2 separate regions of the Homo sapiens genome follow, and region 1 is linked to region 2. Evidence: fine-mapped expression QTL. A gene starts in region 2. The other region holds a variant in brackets. All regions are shown on one strand. Distances are from middle to middle.

Region 1 (4,221 bases), 21 kb after region 2:
GGATCGCTTGAGGTCAGGAGTTCGAGACCAGCCTGGCCAACACAGTGAAATCCAATCTCTACTAAAAAAAAAAAAAAAAAAAAAATTAGCTGGGCGTGGTGGCACATGCTTGTAGTCCCAGCTACCTGGGAGGCTGAGGTGGGAGAATCGCCCAAACCTGGGAGGTGGAGGTTGCAGTAAGCCAAGGTTGTGCCACTGCACTCCAGCCTGGGCAACAGAGCAAGACCCTGTCTCAAAAAAAAAAAAAAAAAAAAAAAAAAGTACGAGCAAATCTAACACTTGTAGGTATGAAGCAGTATGGACAGAGCATGGTTTCCTCCCGCATTTTAGAAAATTCTATAGGGAAACATTTTCTAAAAACAAAATTATGGCTGGGGGCAGTGGCTCATGCCTGTAATCCCAGCACTTTGGGAGGCTGAGGCAGGTGGATCACCTGAGGTCAGGATTTCGAGACCAGCCTAGCATGGCAAAGCCCTATCTCTACTAAAAATACAAAAATTAGCCAGGCGTGGTGGCACACGCCTGTAATCCTAGCTCCTCGGGAAGCTAAGGCACGAGCATCACTTTAACCTGGGAGACAGAGGTTGCAATGAGCTGAGATGGCACCACTGCACTGCAGTCTGGATGACAGAGACACTATGTCTCAAAAAAAAAAAAAAAGTACACCTAGCACTCCAATCTATTATCCAACCTTTGATCCAATCCTTGATCAAGTACTGCTCTAATTCTCAAAGGTGAATACAAAATACCAAGCACTCCATTAAACATGATGGCTGGCCAGGCGCGGTGGCTCACACCCGTAATCCCAGCACTTTGGCCGGGCGAGGTGGGCAGATCACTTGAGCCCAGAGGTTCAAGACCAGCTTGGGCAACATAGCAAAACCCCATCTCTACAAAAAACACAAAATTAGGTGTGGTGGCATGCGCCTGTAGTCCCAGCTACTCAGGAGGCTGAGGTGGGAGGATCACCTAAGCTCGGGGAGGTCAAGGCTGCAGTAAGCCATGATCACACCGCTGCACTCCAGCCTGGGCGACAGAGCAAGACCCCGTCTCAAAAAAAAAAGAAAAAAAAGATAAAAGAAAAAAAAATTATGGCTTTCAACTTAAAGAAAAGTACCATCAGTCTATCATTAGTGTTTAAGTGAAGGAGTTAAGGATTCCGTCTTATGAAGTGCAGGGGGTTATACTCAGGACACAATGGAAGGGGTTCTGAAGTGGCCCACAAAAGTTTTATTTCTCGACTTGGGTGGTGTTCACTTTATAATCGTTCATTAAGCCACAGATTTGATTTTTACAGTTTTCTGTATTTGTGTTTTAGTTTACAACAAAAAGATTAAAACAAAAGAATCACACCTTATCTAAGCACAGGTTGCCGTGCCTCTCAGCAATAGCCTTCCTGAAGCCATGAGAAAGAGGATATAGCATACTATGATGAGGATGCACAGAAGGCAACCTATTCTTCTCTAACTGGTCAGCCACAATACTGACCAACTTCTTCATTCGCTCATCATAGTCTGTCCAATCACAGACAATCTAGAGAAAGCAAAAACAAGTTATTATCCAGAAAGTCCTATCCCAGGATTTAATATTTGATATGTCTTTGGCCTAAAGTAATGTCAGATAGCCTATTAAAAATACTATTTCCAGTCAGGCTTGGATTCTTATGGCATACAACAATTAAAAAGCTATTACAACACTGAGAGCCAATTACTGGCCTGTTATTCTTTACCTGCAGGCAATGAGCCAAGTTACAATAAGCATCAGGAAAATCAGGCTTAAGTTTCAGAGCCGTGCGGTAAGAAGCTATGGCTTCTGGAATATTCCCTGAATCCTGGAAAATAAATAAAGCAGGATGGTAAAAAATTTCCAAAAGTTAAATTTTAGGTGTTAAACTGCACATATTATAATAAACAGTAGTACCTTATGAATGGAAGCCAGATTGCTATGTGCATCTGCAAATGCAGGATTAATTTGGATGGCACGCGTATAACACTGCAAGGCTCCCTGAACATCCTGCATCTCCTTTAGAGTGTTTCCCATATTAGAGTAGGCATCAGCAAAGGTAGGACTGATTCTAAAAGAGAAGCCAAAGGTTTTATTTCTCCAATACAAAAATCTTTAACCCACTGTAATGCTAACTTATTC[C/T]GTTGTTATTTAAAGCCATTTTAGCATCTGCAATGTGCCGAATGTCAAACATTTTAAAATTAAAAATAATTTTAAAAATAAGGCTGTTAGTGTCTCTTACCGAATAGCCTCCTTATAATGCATCAGAGCTTCCTGCAGTTTTCCCTGCTGCTGCAGTACACTTGCTAAATTTGAATGGGCAGCAGCAAACTCTGGGAAGACCTATAAAGAGTCAAGATCAGAACTGAGGTTAAAAAAATTGCTAAAGCAGCAGTAATAATTCACCACAACCTTAAGAACTTTGCTCAAGTACATTTAAACCCCTAAATTTGTCTCTACTTTTTCCAAGTCTATTCATTCTCAAATTCTACCTCTTCCTCTATTTTATACCTCTTCTTGTTTCAAACATAATGAGGTACACCTCTTCTCCTCTTAGTTTATCCTGACCACTCCAACACCACTGAAATCTCTCTCTGCTAAACTCCTACCACATCTACTAACCACTACCATACAGCCATCAGGCACTAAGATTATATACTTATAAGTAACTTCTCTTGAACTGTGGGTTAATGTTTAATTTTTTTGTACAGATCTTATCCACAGAATAATGAACTCTGAATGCAGGGATTTTCTGGAATGTCACATAGGGCCTCACATCATACCTTAGGTACTCAATTGTTACTTCAATGAATAATCCTCTTGTAAATGATTCAACCACTATTTTTACAAAAGAGGTGGATGATGGTAAACTTAACTGCTTTCCCTCTACTATCATGCTAAATGCCCAGCTACACCACCCTCACATACTTCTAATGCTTTACGATACAAGCGAACTGCCTCTTCAATGTTTCCCTGTTCTCGTTTGATATTGGCTAGGTTATTCAGAGAGTCTGCATGGGTGGGACACAGACGGAGAGCTGTATTATAACAATCTTCTGCTTCAGCAACCTAGAAAACAAAACAAAGTCTTCAAAAACTGTACAGAATCATAAAGCCTCCACTGATACTGTTCTAATAATTGTTTAATTAAGCCTAATGGCTGGTAATGCTACAGAAAATTGATATTTTTTGGTATTCTTACCCTCAACCAAAACTCTAAAGTAAACCAATATACCATCTCAATACTTGTACAAAAGACTTTCCTTTTTTGCTGTTTTTTGGTTTTTGTGATTTTTTTGAGACAGAGTCTCGTGCTCTGTTGCCCAGGCTGGAGTGCTGTGGCACAATCATGGCCCACTGCAGCCTCAACCTCCCAGGACTCAATCGATCCTCCCACCTCGGCCTCCCAAGGAGCTGGGACTACAGGTGTGTGCCACCATGCCCGGCTAATTTTTGTATTTCTTGTAGAGACAGGGTTTCGTCATGTTGCCTAGGCTGGTCTCGAAACCCTAAGCTCAAGCAATCCTCTGATCTCGGCCTCCCGAAGTGCTGGCATTACAAGTGTGAGCCACCACACCTGGCCAGAAAAGACTCTTAATCCTACCAGATAACAAATAGAATGAGTAAAAATCCTTACACTGCCCTTCTCTTTGAGAGCATTGGCTAGGTTGCAGTAAGCATCAGGGAAATGTGGTTGTAGTTCGATAGCCCGCCTGTAGGTGTCTATTGCCAGATCTATCAGGCCTTGCTCATAGTATACACAAGCCAGGTTGCCGTGCACCACTGCGTGATTTGGACTCAAACTTAGGGCACGAAGATAAGCTGCCACAGCTCTGTAAATAAACACACACACACACACACACACACACACACACACACACACACACAAAATGTAACTCATGCTTAATGGATGGTTTGTTACAACTCATTCAAGCTGTACTATATCAAAATATATCAAGTAATTGTAATTAATTACATAATTCATGCTGTATTATATTTTAACCTCAAACCAAAATCACACCTTTATAAAATGTGTCTTTACACTGGGAAGTTTTCTACTCCCACATAAAAAATAGGCTTTCCTTTGACAACAACAAAAAATTTAAAAGTCTGGATTTACTTTGCTTTCTAAAATCAGGTCAAAGGAATAATTTAGTCTAAGAAAGAATCATTTCAACCATTTTAACAATAAAAAAATTTCAACTAAACTCCCAATGA
Region 2 (4,191 bases):
AAAAAGAAAGCCAGAACTCAAAAGCAGAGACATCTCTACATTTACATTCTGCATTTATCTTTGGGTATCTTCCCCACCTTAAAGCCGAAACTTTGCTCTGCAAAATGAAAAGGATTTAAATTTGTTTTGTTGCAAACTTTTCCCACTCAGGCCTCTACCACCCCAATCTCTTCCCACCCTGCACCCGCCCCCACTTCCCACTCCCTCCACTCCCACCTCAACTTGCCAGTCTTCCACGTATCAGGGCTCGACCGCCCCCACATCCCACTGGCCCTCCACCTCCCTACAACCTTCAGTCCCCCTACTCCTGCCCCAAGGAAGTCTCCCACCTACCGGGTGTCAACCTCTCCCCCTTCCCCTACCTCTTTACTCCCCACTCTGTCAATCTTACCCAGAATAGGCTACCACCGCCCCCTCATCACCTTCTTCCTTCTGTCCAACCTCCACTGCCCCCTTACCTCCCGCCACTCTGGCTTCTCACTGGTCTTATATGAATCCGGCCACCCCCTCCACGCTTCCTATTCCTGCCTCCAGCCTCTAGCCAATCTTCGACCAAACAGGCCTTGACCCCTCCCCAACTCCTTCCTCCTATCAGGTCTGGACCCTACCCCCACCATTCTCACCTCAGTCTTCCACCAATCAGGCCTCAACCCCACCACCCTTCCCCCACACTCGCACCTCCAACCACCTCCAGCCACCTTCAACTGCTCCCAACCGGTTTTCCAAGCAGGCTTCCACTCCCCCACACTTCTATCCAACTTCTGCCCTACCCCACTCCTGTCTCCCACCACCACTCAGTCCTCAGCCAAAGAGACCTCAACCCCCACACACACACCCCTACCCACAACCACTAGCTCCCACCTCCCCCCAATGCTGCAACGGGCACCCCCACTTCTCCCCACAGCCACTGGCACCCCCACCTCCAATGCCACCACCAGCATCCTCACTTCTCCCCACGCCCACCAGCACCACCACGTGCTCCTAGGCCACTTCCACCACCACCAAGTGTTCCTACGCCGCCACCAGAACCCCCCACTTCCCTCAACGCCCCCATTGGCACCCCCACCTTCAATGCGGCCACCGGCGCCTCCACTTCTCCCCACACCGCCAGCGCTACTATGTGCTCCTATGCCACCAACGCCACCAAGTACTCCTAGGCCGCAACTGGCACCCCCACCTCCCCCCACGCTGCCACTGGCATCCCTACTTCTCCCCACCCGCCACTAGGGACACCACCTGTTCCTACACCACCACTGGGGCCCCCACCTCCCCCCAGTGCCGCAACCAGCGCCCTCACTTCTCCCCGCGCCGCCACCGGCGCCACGTATTCCTACATAGCCACTGGCGCCACCACACGCTCCTACGCCACCACCAGCGCTCCCACTTCCCCCAAGGCCGCCAATGGTGCCCCTACTTCTCCCCACACCGTCACTGGTGCTACCACATGCTCCTACACCACCACCAGCACCCCCACTTCCCCGACACTGCCACAGGCACCCCCACTTCCCCCAACGCCGCCACTGGTGCCCCTACTTCTCTCCACCCGCCACTGGCACCAACACCTCCTTCTACGCCACCACCAGGCCCCCCACTATCTGCAATGACGCCACCAGCGCCCCTTCTCCCCACGCCGCCACTGGCACTACCAGCTGCTCCTACGCCGCCACCGGCGCCCCCACCCCTCCCAATGCCGCCACTGGCGCCACCATATGTTTCCTACACCACCATGGGCGCCCCCACCTCCCCCAATGCTACCACTGGCGCCTCCACTTCTCCCCTCGCTGCCACTTCCTCTACTCCCACCTCAGGCCTACACGGGCAACCAGAGTCCAAGGTATACAGTGGTCCTGATTTTAATTAAGTCACTCAATTAGGATTAACCTCTGGACCACTTCAGCACCCATCTCAGTCCGACCAGCCGGTCACCTACCTGGTGTTGCAGCCTCTGGCGTGGCCGGCAGCAGCTCACCTCCAACTGCCCGTGGAGTGTGTGCAAAGATCCGGAGCAACTGCGATGAACAACGCCAGGCGCAGGCCCCTTTATAGTGCCCGGACCTAGGGGGCGGTAGCAGTAATTCACGTGTGCTCGCCCGCGCTCCCCTGTACCCACCTATCACAGTGGTCACAAGACAAATTTGAACTTCGCGCCTGTGAACTTGGCGCCTAGCTGTAACGCTTCCGGGATCAGGTCTGTCGCTTTCCACTCCCACGGATGTTGCTTATTTGTCCCAAAACCGCCATTTCAATACTAGAGCGTGGGCACCCGAGGCCAATTCTGCGATTAAAAGTCCCTAACAACTTTCTGATAAAGAGAAACCATGTGAAATCGTTCATAACAAACTTTTATCCTGCGAGAACTTGGATAAGCGAGCCTTGTTCCTTACTTGAATTGTCCAGACCTCTAAGTCCGTTATTGCAACCACTGGGAAAGGGCGCGGGGGGAGGGGCGGGGGCACGAGAACTGGAGCGAAGGCGCGGGAGCAGGGGCGTGGACGGGAACACCGAGGGGAGGGCGGGGCGCGGGGGGACGCGGGAGCGCAGGGGGGCGGGGGTTGCAGGGAAGGCCATCTAGACCCCTAGATAAGAGCAAGGCAGCAACTCAACAGCGCCTGGCAACGGCGAACTATGATGTTTACTTCCAGAACCCTCCAAACCCTGGAGATAAAAAAAGGTTACTTGAGGCTTTTTGGCACTCACTCCATACACACCAAGAAAAACAAACGGGGAAAACAGCGCTTTCTAGATTGTGCCAGTTTCTCCAGCGAGCATCTATATATTTCGTAATGTATGCCTTTGGGTAACAGAACACACATAAAATGTCCCTGCGTTTGATACTATTTTGTGCTAAGCATTATTCCAAGTGTCTTACGACTTAATTCATACAACACTTTAAAAAGTAGGCAACTGTTAGCACTCTCATTTTAGAGATCACACAGCTAGAAAGTGGCAGAGCTGGCCGGGCACAGTGGCTCACGCCTGTAACCCCAGCACTTTGGGAGGCTGAGGCGGGTGGATCACGAAGTCAGGAGCTTGAGACCAGCCTGGTCAACATGGTGAAACCCCGTCTCTACTAAAGATAAAAAAAAAAAAATAGCCGCGTGTGGTGGCCCGCGCCTGTAATCCCAGCTACTCGGGAGGCTGAGGCAGGAGAATCGCTGGAACCTGGGAGGCGGAGGTTGCAGTGAGCCGAGATCGTGCCATTGCACTCCAGCATGGGGACAGGGCGAGACTCCATCTCAAAAAAAAAAAAAAAAGTGGCAGAGCTGAGATTCAAACTCCAACTCTAGTTCCAAAACCTGCTCTTAAGCACCAGATTGCCTACCTAAATACAGATACTTTCTCAGTTGATAAAAAAATTGGATAAAGGGGGCTGATTACTCTCTCTCTCTACAATGAAGTTGCAAATTAACCTCTACAAGCCTCTTTATAAGAATGGGGATTACATAACTGTGCCTCAGAGGCTTGGGCAAAGAACCAGGATGTTAGCTATAATTGAGAGGCATATGCTTCAAGTAAAAGAATGGGATAGGTTTGGAATCAAATCTTAAAATGGGCAGTTCAGAAATTACACACATTTACTCAAGGTGTGCAAGCAACTCCTTTAGATTGAAGGCAGGAGGAGCTGAAGTAGACTGGAAATAATGTAGATTTTTCAAGAGAAGCGAATGGGAGTAAAAACTTTTGAGTAGGCTTTCTTCCCATAATAATCTTTTAGGAAACAAACACCAATCCACATGAGGGCTTTAAGAAGTTGGGAATTAAATCATGCAAAATTTTACTGAAAAAAATCTTCCCTCTCATATCTGAGAAAACTGGCAAACAGCATTTGCCATGATATCAATTCATGATATCAATCATGAATTGATATCTTCCTCCCTGATGCTTGTGGCAGAGTTCGACCACTATACAGAGCAGGAAGGAAAATAATTTTGCCCCCAAGAGCCAAGAAAAGAATGGTCCACATGAAAACCGAGACTACAAGGGTAAATGAAAGCAGAGAGGTCACAAGCAAAAGAGGAGCAAGCATGAATGGGTGTGTTGGGGATCACAGGCTTTGTCTTTTTTTTTTTTTGAGATGACATCTCACTCTGTTGTCCAGGCTGGAATGCAATGGCACGATCTCAGCTCACTGCAACCTCTGCCTCCCGGGTTCAAGCGATTCTCCTGTCTCAGCCTCGCATGTAGTTGGGA

The links. PIP is the estimated chance that this variant, and not a neighbour inherited with it, causes the effect.
Region 1: its variant is the best candidate, but not a certain one, in a credible set for the expression of GCNA in blood mononuclear cells (TOPMed, PIP 0.52).

What each region holds. Positions count from the first base shown.
Region 1 is chrX:71,554,805-71,559,025 of GRCh38, reverse strand. OGT (O-linked N-acetylglucosamine (GlcNAc) transferase) reads right to left here. Exons shown (of 22, transcript NM_181672.3): 7 at 3,641-3,836; 8 at 2,932-3,072; 9 at 2,246-2,346; 10 at 1,921-2,074; 11 at 1,730-1,831; 12 at 1,354-1,533. Among named protein-coding and RNA genes, the nearest start is that of GCNA, 22 kb to the left of the region's middle. The variant C/T (reference allele first, on the strand shown) is at 2,146.
Region 2 is chrX:71,576,262-71,580,452 of GRCh38, reverse strand. GCNA (germ cell nuclear acidic peptidase) reads right to left here and starts at 2,016. Exons shown (of 13, transcript NM_052957.5): 1 at 1,931-2,016. RefSeq lists an enhancer at 1,168-1,809.